Homo sapiens: one gene and its partner. The protein of the gene in region 1 interacts with the protein of each later gene in a pairwise test. Each region holds a gene or a part of one and is shown on either strand. Other genes may lie near its edges.

Evidence for each region.
Region 2: the proteins of BTBD16 (region 1) and PAXIP1 interact in a two-hybrid assay, tested with the Homo sapiens proteins (one large-scale study listed by BioGRID).

Annotation. Positions count from the first base shown.
Region 1 is NC_000010.11:122,291,540-122,296,310, reverse strand, and holds part of BTBD16 (BTB/POZ domain-containing protein 16), read right to left. Parts: intron 1-4,771.
Region 2 is NC_000007.14:155,000,325-155,005,144, forward strand, and holds the start of PAXIP1 (PAX-interacting protein 1), read right to left. Parts: upstream 2,801-4,820; 5' UTR 2,606-2,800; coding exon 2,525-2,605; intron 1,216-2,524; exon of another isoform or gene 1-1,215.

The DNA.
Region 1 (4,771 bases):
GCATTTTGGTGTGCCGCTTTTGCCAAAACCAAGAAAAAAACATTATAAGATTTATTATTGCATTTACTCTACAGACATTCTTGAGGACATTGACCATTAGGTTGCTTGGGGTCATCTGCTGAAGACATCCACAGTTTTCATACTAATAGTAGTTGTACTTCTCCCAAGTGAATTGTTTTTTAAACTGTTATCTAGTTTGCATCGAATATCACTGATCAAGTTTCCCTTTTTATCTGCCGCTAGCAAGTTCAGAGCTGAATGTATGGCCTATCTTAGGAAAAAAGTGTGGTTATTAGAGTTAGTATACAATGGTAGCTTCTCCATCTTTTTCTTCCTCCTTAAAAAAAAGAAAATTGGTGTTCTGTGGCTTCATTTCATGTATTCATGGAAGCCACTCAAAGCCTTTACTAGAACAAGGTAAGAAATGATAAGTGAATAAATAATCTGGTCATGGCCAAGGCACTCTACCCCCTTGTGTGCTAGGATCGGCCCTTCAGACAGGGAGACTGACTCTACCCATTAGAAGGAGTTGTCTTGAGTACTGGGGAAACCTGTACTGAGTAAACATGAGGCGCTGCTGTCATCCCCTGGGCATTTTGCCTTCTAAGACTGCTGAGTCCTGTCAATCCTGCATCTTGGCTGTCTCTTGAGCGTGCCCCTCCTCCCGCTCCCACTTCCCCTGCCTAGTTCAGACCCTCCTGGTCTCTCGGCTGAGCCTCTGCATAGCCTCTCAACAGCCAGCCTCCCTGCCCTGCAGCCTCCCACATTTATACCACATCCTTCACACAGGAGGGGCTCAGCCTAAACCACAGAGGCTCTGCCACTCTCCCCTCCCAAGCCCAGGCTTCCTGCTCTGCTGACTGAACCAAGACCTGCTCATGTGGCTACAAGATCCTGCATAACCTGGGCTCATCCAAACCTCTGGCCATTGCAGCTGCATTGGGTCTTAGTGGCCAGGCTTATCCCAGTTTGATGCTGCTCCACCCTGTCCCCTCTTTCTCCCCCTTTGACTGCTGTAATTCTTCCAGGCTCAGGTCCAGCACCACCTCCTCTTGGAAGTCACCCTGATTGCTCCTCCCCACATACTGCCTTAGTTTTGATTTCCATGCCTTCCTTCTTCTACCTGGTTCCTTACCTCCCTCCACCTCCCATGAAACAACAGACTGCCGGGAAGCAGCGCTCCCCATACAAATCCATCCTGAGTGCCAGCTCTGTGCTGACCTGTGCTGCTGGTTCTGGAAATGCCACCAGGGACAGGTGGAGGCCTTTTCGTCCTGGAGCTCATGGCCTCACCGGTCAGCAGAGGGTGAAGCCCAAGCTGTGACGAGGCTGAACAGGAGGCTCGGGCCCCACCCTCATCGGGTCCAGGAGCCTTTAGGTGCCAGCTTTTGTCTGTCGAAACCTACAGGGAGCACTAGCTGGGCTTGGAGTTGCAGGGGAGAAATGAGTGCCCCAGGAGGCTGGCACCTTCTCTTATGCTTCCCCTTCCTCACTGTGAAACCCATTGGCTGGGCTGGACTGGAATGATCAGACTTCCCAGACCAAAGGAAGCAAAGAAAGCCATCCGGGCTCGCCTCTGGGCTCAGGGAAGTGGGGGGTTTCCTCTTCTGGAAATTCTAAAGGACCAGGAAGTTGCCCACAGAGGAAGTTCAGCCCTGCATGGAGGCAAGGAAATGCCCCTCTGGCCCTGTGAGCCTGGAGGAACCCAAGTGACAACCAGGGAGATGCTCCATGTGTATGTGTGTGAGCGTGTGTGTGCATACACATGCATGCACATATGTGCTGGTACACGCATGTGACAGCCACAATCCCTGCTGTGACTCCAGCCCAAGTGCCAATAAAGATATTGACATGAGAGTCAAAGGAACATCACCCAGTGGAAGCTGTGTGCACACACACTGCATCTCTTCAAGATGGGAGGCCTCAGGTATGTGTGATTCAGAATTAAGCTGTCATCTGGCAATTTCCCACTGCCTGGGAGCTCAGCTGAGATAACCTGTGAGGTCTCACTCAGCACCTGAACGTTGTGATGCTATCAGAGTGACCTGGGGCACTTCCGTTACACAGACACACAAACACACATGTATCCTATGATGCCACACCCTGCCAACTGCGCCATCAGCCTCTCAAAGGCAGGCAAGACCCAGCCCAACTATGTGCAGGCCCGCCCTGGCCTCTGACCTAGAATCCCAGCCCCACCACAATTATCTGGAGAATCTTGGGCAGGTCCCATCAGCTTCAGGCAAGCCTATGTTTGCTCATCAGTGGAATGAAAGGTTTGGCTCATTAGCTGCAAAGCCCCTCCTGCTCTGGCATTCAAAACAAGGTGGGGGGAGGGGAAAGGAGGATGAAGAAGCTGCCCTTCTTGGTTCATCTCTGGATAAGCCAGGGCGAGAGTTCTGAAGGTTAAATGCGGCTTCCAGTCTGCTCCTAAGGTAGGGCAGCTGAGGCTTGGAGACAGAAGGTGGCCAGAGGCCCCACTTCAAGATGGAAGCTACCCTGCCAGCATTCAGGTCAGAGATAACTTCCTGGACTGCACCAGGAAATAGCTGCTCAGAAATACTCTGTCGAAAGGAGCTATGATTTCATAGTTATACATCACAAGGCTATGCTGGGCTGACAGTGGGTGATATATACAACGGAAGGGACACGGGAATCTCAGGAAAACCTGGACTTTTCACCCCACGACCTTCAGGGTCAAGGCCAGATTCCTTAGATGGTTCTAAGACGCTACACCAGTTGGCTCTGCCTGCAACTATTCATCTCCCATCTACCACGGCCACCTAACCCCACAGTCTGACCATGCTGACACACTGGAGTGCTTCTTCAAGACTCCAGGCCCTCTTCAATGTGTGTCCCCTGCAGAGAGGTCCAGACACCTGCGTTCCCAACGAGGCTGCCACATGCTCCAGATCAAAGGCCTGGACCTAGTCATTTCATGAGTCCCCAGAATGAGGCACCAGCTCAAAAACATCCATGGGGTTGAATCTGACTGTGTGAACTCTACAAAAAATGAATTGAAACCTGTAAGATCCCCAGGAGATATCTGTCTCTCCCCTCTGCAGAGCAGCTAATGTCTTCTCTTGGCTTGGATGGTATATTCATTCATTCCTTCATTCAGTCAGATAATGAGCCTGAGGTTTAAGAAGTAAACAAAACAGGCAGACCACCTCCTGCCCTGATCTCTTCTTTATACTGAATTGCATCAGGAATTAGGGAAAAAAAGCTACAAGATACCACCTCTCTCTTCAGGACATCAATGCAGTAGGCACACATCCCTCAAAAAGCCCAGGAGATGAAACAAAATATTCTAGAGAAATGAATCCCATGAATGATTTTCCACTTGGTTCACTTACTCTTTCATAAGCATTAATGGAATGAAGGAATATTACAGGACACACAAAAAAGGGAGGAGAAATTCTAAGAAATGCTCTTTCTTATTATAGATACTAATTTTGCTTGAACTTAATAATACATAGCACAACATTTTCCAGTTAGGAATTCCCAAACTTCATTCCATCCACCTTTATTCACTTCTGGTGTCATGGAGACTGTTGGACAGGAGACTTTAGAGGGCAGGGATCCTGCCCATCTGGTCCCTCACTGTCTCCTTGGCCTCCCAGAGGAGCCTAAGAAGTTGTCCTTGAGGCAGATGAATGAATGAGTGTAGGTGTGAGTGAATAAACCAACAAGTGAGTGACCCTAAGCAAACCTCTCCTGACTAAATGCCATTGAAGGGAGGGTCAGAACCACAAATTAGCAAGTGACAACATTACCACCTCACCCAAGCGAAGTGGAATAGTACAGTGTTAGAGGTCCAGGCTCTGGGGCCCCCTGACCTACGAGTCCTGGCTTCTCTACTTGGCAGCTGCGTGGCCTTGGCCAAGTTACTTACTTCCCAAAGCCCCAGTCTTCTCATCTGTAAAATGAGCATAGTAATAGTTCTACCTCCTAGGGTTGCAGGGAAGATGAAATGAGGTCATCCCTGCAAGGGGCTGAGAACTGAAAGGCAAACACTCCATCCTAAAGCCCTATGTGCTGACATCCCCTAATCCCCAACAAAGTCCTGGGAAGTAGATGGGACAAATGTTATAAGCCACATTTTATGTCAGAGACTGCCAGTGTACATAGAGACTAAGGGGCACCTTATTGTAGAACTGAGCACAGACCCTGCACGGACCCAGGTTACTTTTGACTTTGCAGGAAAAGCCCAGTGCAAACTGGGAGCTCTGAGTCTCACCCCTCCAGGGTGTGTTTCCTCGGCTGCTTGGATGCAGGTGGAAACACCAAGCAATGTCTGTTACCCCCTCATGCTCATGATTTCTGCATCCATGAGCCCAGGCAACCCTCGTCAGGATGAGGAAGCTTTCACATTCAATGCCAACCCACTTTGAATGCCTCCTGGTTCCCCACCACCTCCTCCCCACACCCCCAACACACCCTGATGAACCCTCCCGATGGGCAGCCCAGGTGGGCCAGCGGGGTCTGAATGTCCAAAAGAGAGGCTATGCCTAAAATGGGCAGGGGGATTTGAGGGCAATTTTAACTTTGATCTTTGCATTTTCCTCTCTTCCAAAAGACCTACAATGACTGTATGTAACATTTATAACAATAAAAATATTATTTACAAGAAAAAACAAGACTTTATCTCAAATGAGCAGGAAAATGTAGGCCCAACAGTGATGGAAAAGTCAGCTTGTCCTCCAATGGCCAGCTTCTGTGTGTGTGTATGACTTAAAGGAGAGAGATTTTTTTTTTCTTTTAGCCAACA
Region 2 (4,820 bases), on another chromosome or scaffold:
TTTTAGCTTCACGCATCCATTCGACTGGTCTTCAGAAAAGGCACCCCTCCTTTTCCTATCCTCCAGTCTGTTTCTGATCCTACTCCCTTCTTCATGAGTTTCCCTGTCCATAGCTATGTTCCCTCCACCTGTAAACAGTAAAGTCACCCACATCCTTCCACGCGCTTGTGATGCAACACAGATCCCTCCCCAGCCCTCTCTTCCTCAGGCACCTTCTCTATTTCCTTCTCAGGACAAACTTCCTGAAGAGTCTAACCTTTCTGTTCTCAGTTTCCATTCACTCTTCAACTCCCTGCAATCCAGCCCCTTCCACCAACACTCTACCAAAAACACTTTACTCGGTTTTCACGAACTTTGAGGATGCCAAAACCAATAGCTTCTCTTCAATCTCCACACTACTGAGTATCTTAATAGATTTATCTCATATCACTCTGTTCCAGATATAGTGATCATCCTGATGTATCCCAAACGCATGAATGCCTTCATTCCTCAGCACATACGCTCCACATGAAAATATTCCTTCATGTTCTTAACTTCTGCTTATCTCAAAACCCAACTGAAATGACATCTACTGAGTGACATTTCAGTGGTGTCTACTTTGCACCCCAGTGGAGAAATCTGCTACACCTTGTACTGTGATATGTCCAGGTGTGCTCCCTCCCCCACCAATGAGGGGCGCTAAAGGGCAGGTACCATGTCCTCTTCACCTCTGTATTATACCTGGCACCTAGTCCATGCCTGCCTCATATTAGATGGTCAACATGTGAACTTATAATCCACAGTCATAAGAGTCAGAGAATCAGATGTCCAGGCTCAAAACTTTTCAGAAAATATACTGTTTCAGATGAAAGTGGTTTGCCAAGGACATTTTTAAGCACTTAGATTTGATTCAAAGTCGAGTAAATATGGTTCCAGTTCAACTTGTTCCAGGTTTTAAGTAACATTTGGTTCAAGTCCCCTATAAGAGCCAAAGTCCTAAAATGAAACACGAAGGCTAGGAAGGAGGGGGAAGAGAAAAATGGTGGATAGCAAAAAACAAAAACAAAAAAACAAACAAAAAAAAGAGGGGCGGGGGAATCATCAATACTGGAAAAAGCTAACACTGTTACAGGCACTCATCTTCATCGCTCCGTGTTCAGCAACTGTTTTACTCTGTAAATTCAAAGATAGAAGGCTTTTTTTTTTTTTTTGAGACGGAGTCTAGCTGTTGTTGCCCAGGCTGGAGTGCAGTGGCGCGATCTCGGCTCACTGCAACTTCCACCTCCCAGGTTCCAGCAATTCTCCTGCCTCAGCCTCCCGAGTAGCTGAGACCACAGGCGCCCGCCACCACGCCCGGCTAATTTTTGTATTTTTAGTAGAGATGAGGCTTCACCATGTTGGCCAGGCTGGTCTCGAACTCATGACCTCAGGTGATCCACCCGCCTTGGCCTCCCAAAGTGCTGGGATTACAGGGGTAAACCCGGCCTTGAAGTCTCTTTACCCTAAAGTTACAGGGCAAAAAGGGTCCAAAAAGTTGTTACAAGGACGAACCTCAAGAAGGCCAAGATCACTCAGCCTTCTACAATTCCTTCTACACCATCCAAGTTCATCTGCGAAATATGAGTCTCCGCCCTTCCAGGCCTAACTCTGATCACTGGGGATCCCCATCCTCCAAGGTGGGGGCCACTGATGTCACACCCAAGGCAACACAACTGTACAGCTAAACTTTTAAGAAGGAAATATTTTGAAGATTAACCTGAAGAGGATATTCAACTAAGATGCATTCCTACCACGGACTGATAACTGTGTGACATCAAACAGATATATTATTATAGGAATACTAAGGAAAACCCACAATATCCTTTGGCGTGAGCCCAAACTACACAAAATTAAATGTGTAATGTGATGGTGTTACCAGGGTACCGTAAAATTAATCGTCCAAGTGGGAAAATCAAGGAAGACGAATGCCAGCCCCCACGTGCAGGGACACAGGCTGGAAGGGAGCGCTCCTCAGCCCCGCACAGGACGGCAGCTGCCCGGGTGGCGGAGGCGGCCAAGCCGGTGCACGGCCACGACCCCCGCCGGCCGAGCGAGGCTGGGGTCCCCGCGCGAGCTGCCCCGGCTGGGGATCCCGGCGCCCCTCGTCCGCCCTCGGAGCTGCTCTCCCGGGAGCCGAGACGCCCGGCGCGGGGAATGGGGAGACGCGACCCCGCGCCCGTCCCGCTCAGCAAAGGAGCAGAGAACGAGGCGGCCCGGTGGGTCGGGGGCGGCGACCCCAGGGCCGCAGGCCGGGGGCTCAGGGCGCGCACTAGGGGCCGAGGTACAGAGCCCCAGCCGCCTTCCCTCCCGCACTCCCCCGGGCCCGGGCCTCCCGCGCCCACCCCGCGGTCGCCCCTGCCCTCAGCGCAGTCAGGCCAGCGGCCTCGGCGGACCCGACGCTCTGCGCCCGGCGCGCGCCCGCGGCAGGAGCGGGGACGGGGACGGGGACGGGGACGGACGGGGACGCGGACGGGGGAGGAGGCCGCGGCAGGGGCGGGCGCGGTACCTGCGGGTCGATGTCGCCCACCGCGTAATACTTGACCTCCCTGAACATCTCCTCAGGAACTTTGGGCGCCTGGTCCGACATGATCGCGGCGGCCCGGGAGGCTCCGCGGCGGCGCCCGGCCCCGCCCACCCCCCGCCCCCGGCCCCCGCGGCGCCCGGCGCCCCCACTCGCCCCGCCAACGGCCCTGCCCGCGCAGCCCGGGCCCGGTCCTGCGAATCGGGGTCCGCTCCCCCGCCCTCCGCGCCCCCGCCCGCGCCCGCGCCGAGCGCCCGAAGCGCGGGAGCCGCGCGCGCCCTGCGGGACGCACCATCCCGCCCCGGCCACCGAGGGGGAGCGCCGAGGAGCCGCCCGGCCTCCAGTGACGCCCCGCGCCTCTGCCGCCAGCCACGGCTCCGGGGTAGCTGGCGCCGGCAGCCCGCTCTGGCCCTTGCGGTTCCGTGGCCGCCGCTCTGCAACGAGGGGGCCCCGAGGACGAGGGGAAACCAGCTCCCCCCTCGGCGGGGCCGGAGTGAGCCGGTCCCGGGGAGGAGGGGAGCTGGCAGGCCCCTCCCGTCGCCACATGCGGCTGCTCGGGGGCGGCGCATGCGCGCGGCGGAGGGGGGGGTGGGGCCTTGGGGCCGCGAGTGGGAGCGGGAGCGGTTCTGCGGCCTCCTCGGGCTTCTTGGCCCTGGGCGGAGTGGGATTGGGTGTCCCGGCTGTTCGCAGTGGCCGCGAGTGCGGCCGGACCTGGAGTAGTACCTGAGCCGCTCTGGCCGAGCAAGGCGCGGGGCCCCGGTCTACACCGCGCTGGACCCGGCTATGCCGTGACGGAATTCCCGAGGCCGTAGCGCCACGCGAGACGCGCACTGGTGGCCTCCGCGGCGAGTCCTGGGGTCTCCGCAAGGCCTCAGTGCCCGAGCTGGGGACGTGCTGGGGGGAGGCCCGGCCCCGTCGCTGCCCGAGGCCCCGCTGTCCCGGCCGGACCGGCCTGGTCCCTGGCGTCCTGTCGGGTCCGCGCTGGAGGAGAGTCCCAGACAGCAGAGCCCGCGGTGCAGCTCCAGCCCCGGGAAGCCCCGCGCTCAACAGGTTAATACTACACAGCGGCGATTCTAATGGTCACGCTTTTATTTACAGCTCGCCTCCCTTCCGCCAAGATTCACAGAACACGGCAGAGTGGCCTCGGGATCACCTGCCCAAGACACCTGCACGACCGGAAGTTGGGAGAAGAAATTAAGGCCATGATGATGAACGCAGCCTTTCTCGTTTATTTCCAATCCCACAACAAACCGGAGTCCAGGAACTCATGGGTGATTATCGGACTATTACCTAGTCGTAAAACTGTGGAGCATTGGTGTCTAAAGGAATCTGAGACAGACCCGCAGTGTCTCCCCCACATGCCTTAAGTCACTTCTGCCAAGCAGAAAATCATTTTTAAGTAAATGTTAGTGAAATTGGTTTTAAAAAAGAGAAGGGGCCGGGCGCGGTGGCTCACGCCTGTAATCCTATCCTTTAGGAGGCCGAGGTGGGCGGATTGCCTGAGTTCAGGAGTTCGAGACCAGCCTGGGCGACACGGTGAAACCCCGTCCCTACTAAAATACAAAAAATTAGCCGGGCGTGGCGGCACGCGCCTGTAGTCCCAGCTACTCAGGAGGCTGAGGCAGGAGAATGGCTTGAACTCGGGTGGGGGAGGTTGCAATGAGCCGAGATCGCGCCGCTGCACTCCAGCCTGGGCGACAGAGCGAGACTCTGTCTCTGAAAAAAAACAAAACAAAACGAGAAGGCTTTCAAAATTACTCTGCGGTACACTAATTTAACAGATTAGATCACTTTCCAGGCTTTAAGTTGGCCTTTGTTCTACCCTTTTTTTAGTGTATGATAAAAGTTGTGTTGGTTCGTTGATCAGCATGCAATGAACTCTGGCTCTTGTTAATCAGGTGACTACAGTTTTGTCCTTACATTTGTATGTATGTCATGAGTGGTTTTGTATGGGCAGGAGGTAAACAACGCACATTTAAATATACTTAATGATTTATCATTCCAATGTTTTCTGGTTGTTTTAGTCTTTCATTTGTCTCTTGAACAATCTGAAACATCCCTATTCTAAGGCTAAAAAATTTCCTTTACAAACTTAGGTTAAACATTCCTAATCTGAAATCCAAAATGCTCTAAAATTCGAATTTTTTTGAGTACTGACGTGACCCCACAAATGGAAAATTCCACACTTGCCCTCATGTGACACTGGGTGACAGTCAAGTCACAATCAAGCCTGGTGTGGTGGGCACCTGTAGTGCCAGCTACTCGGGAGGTTGAGCAGGAG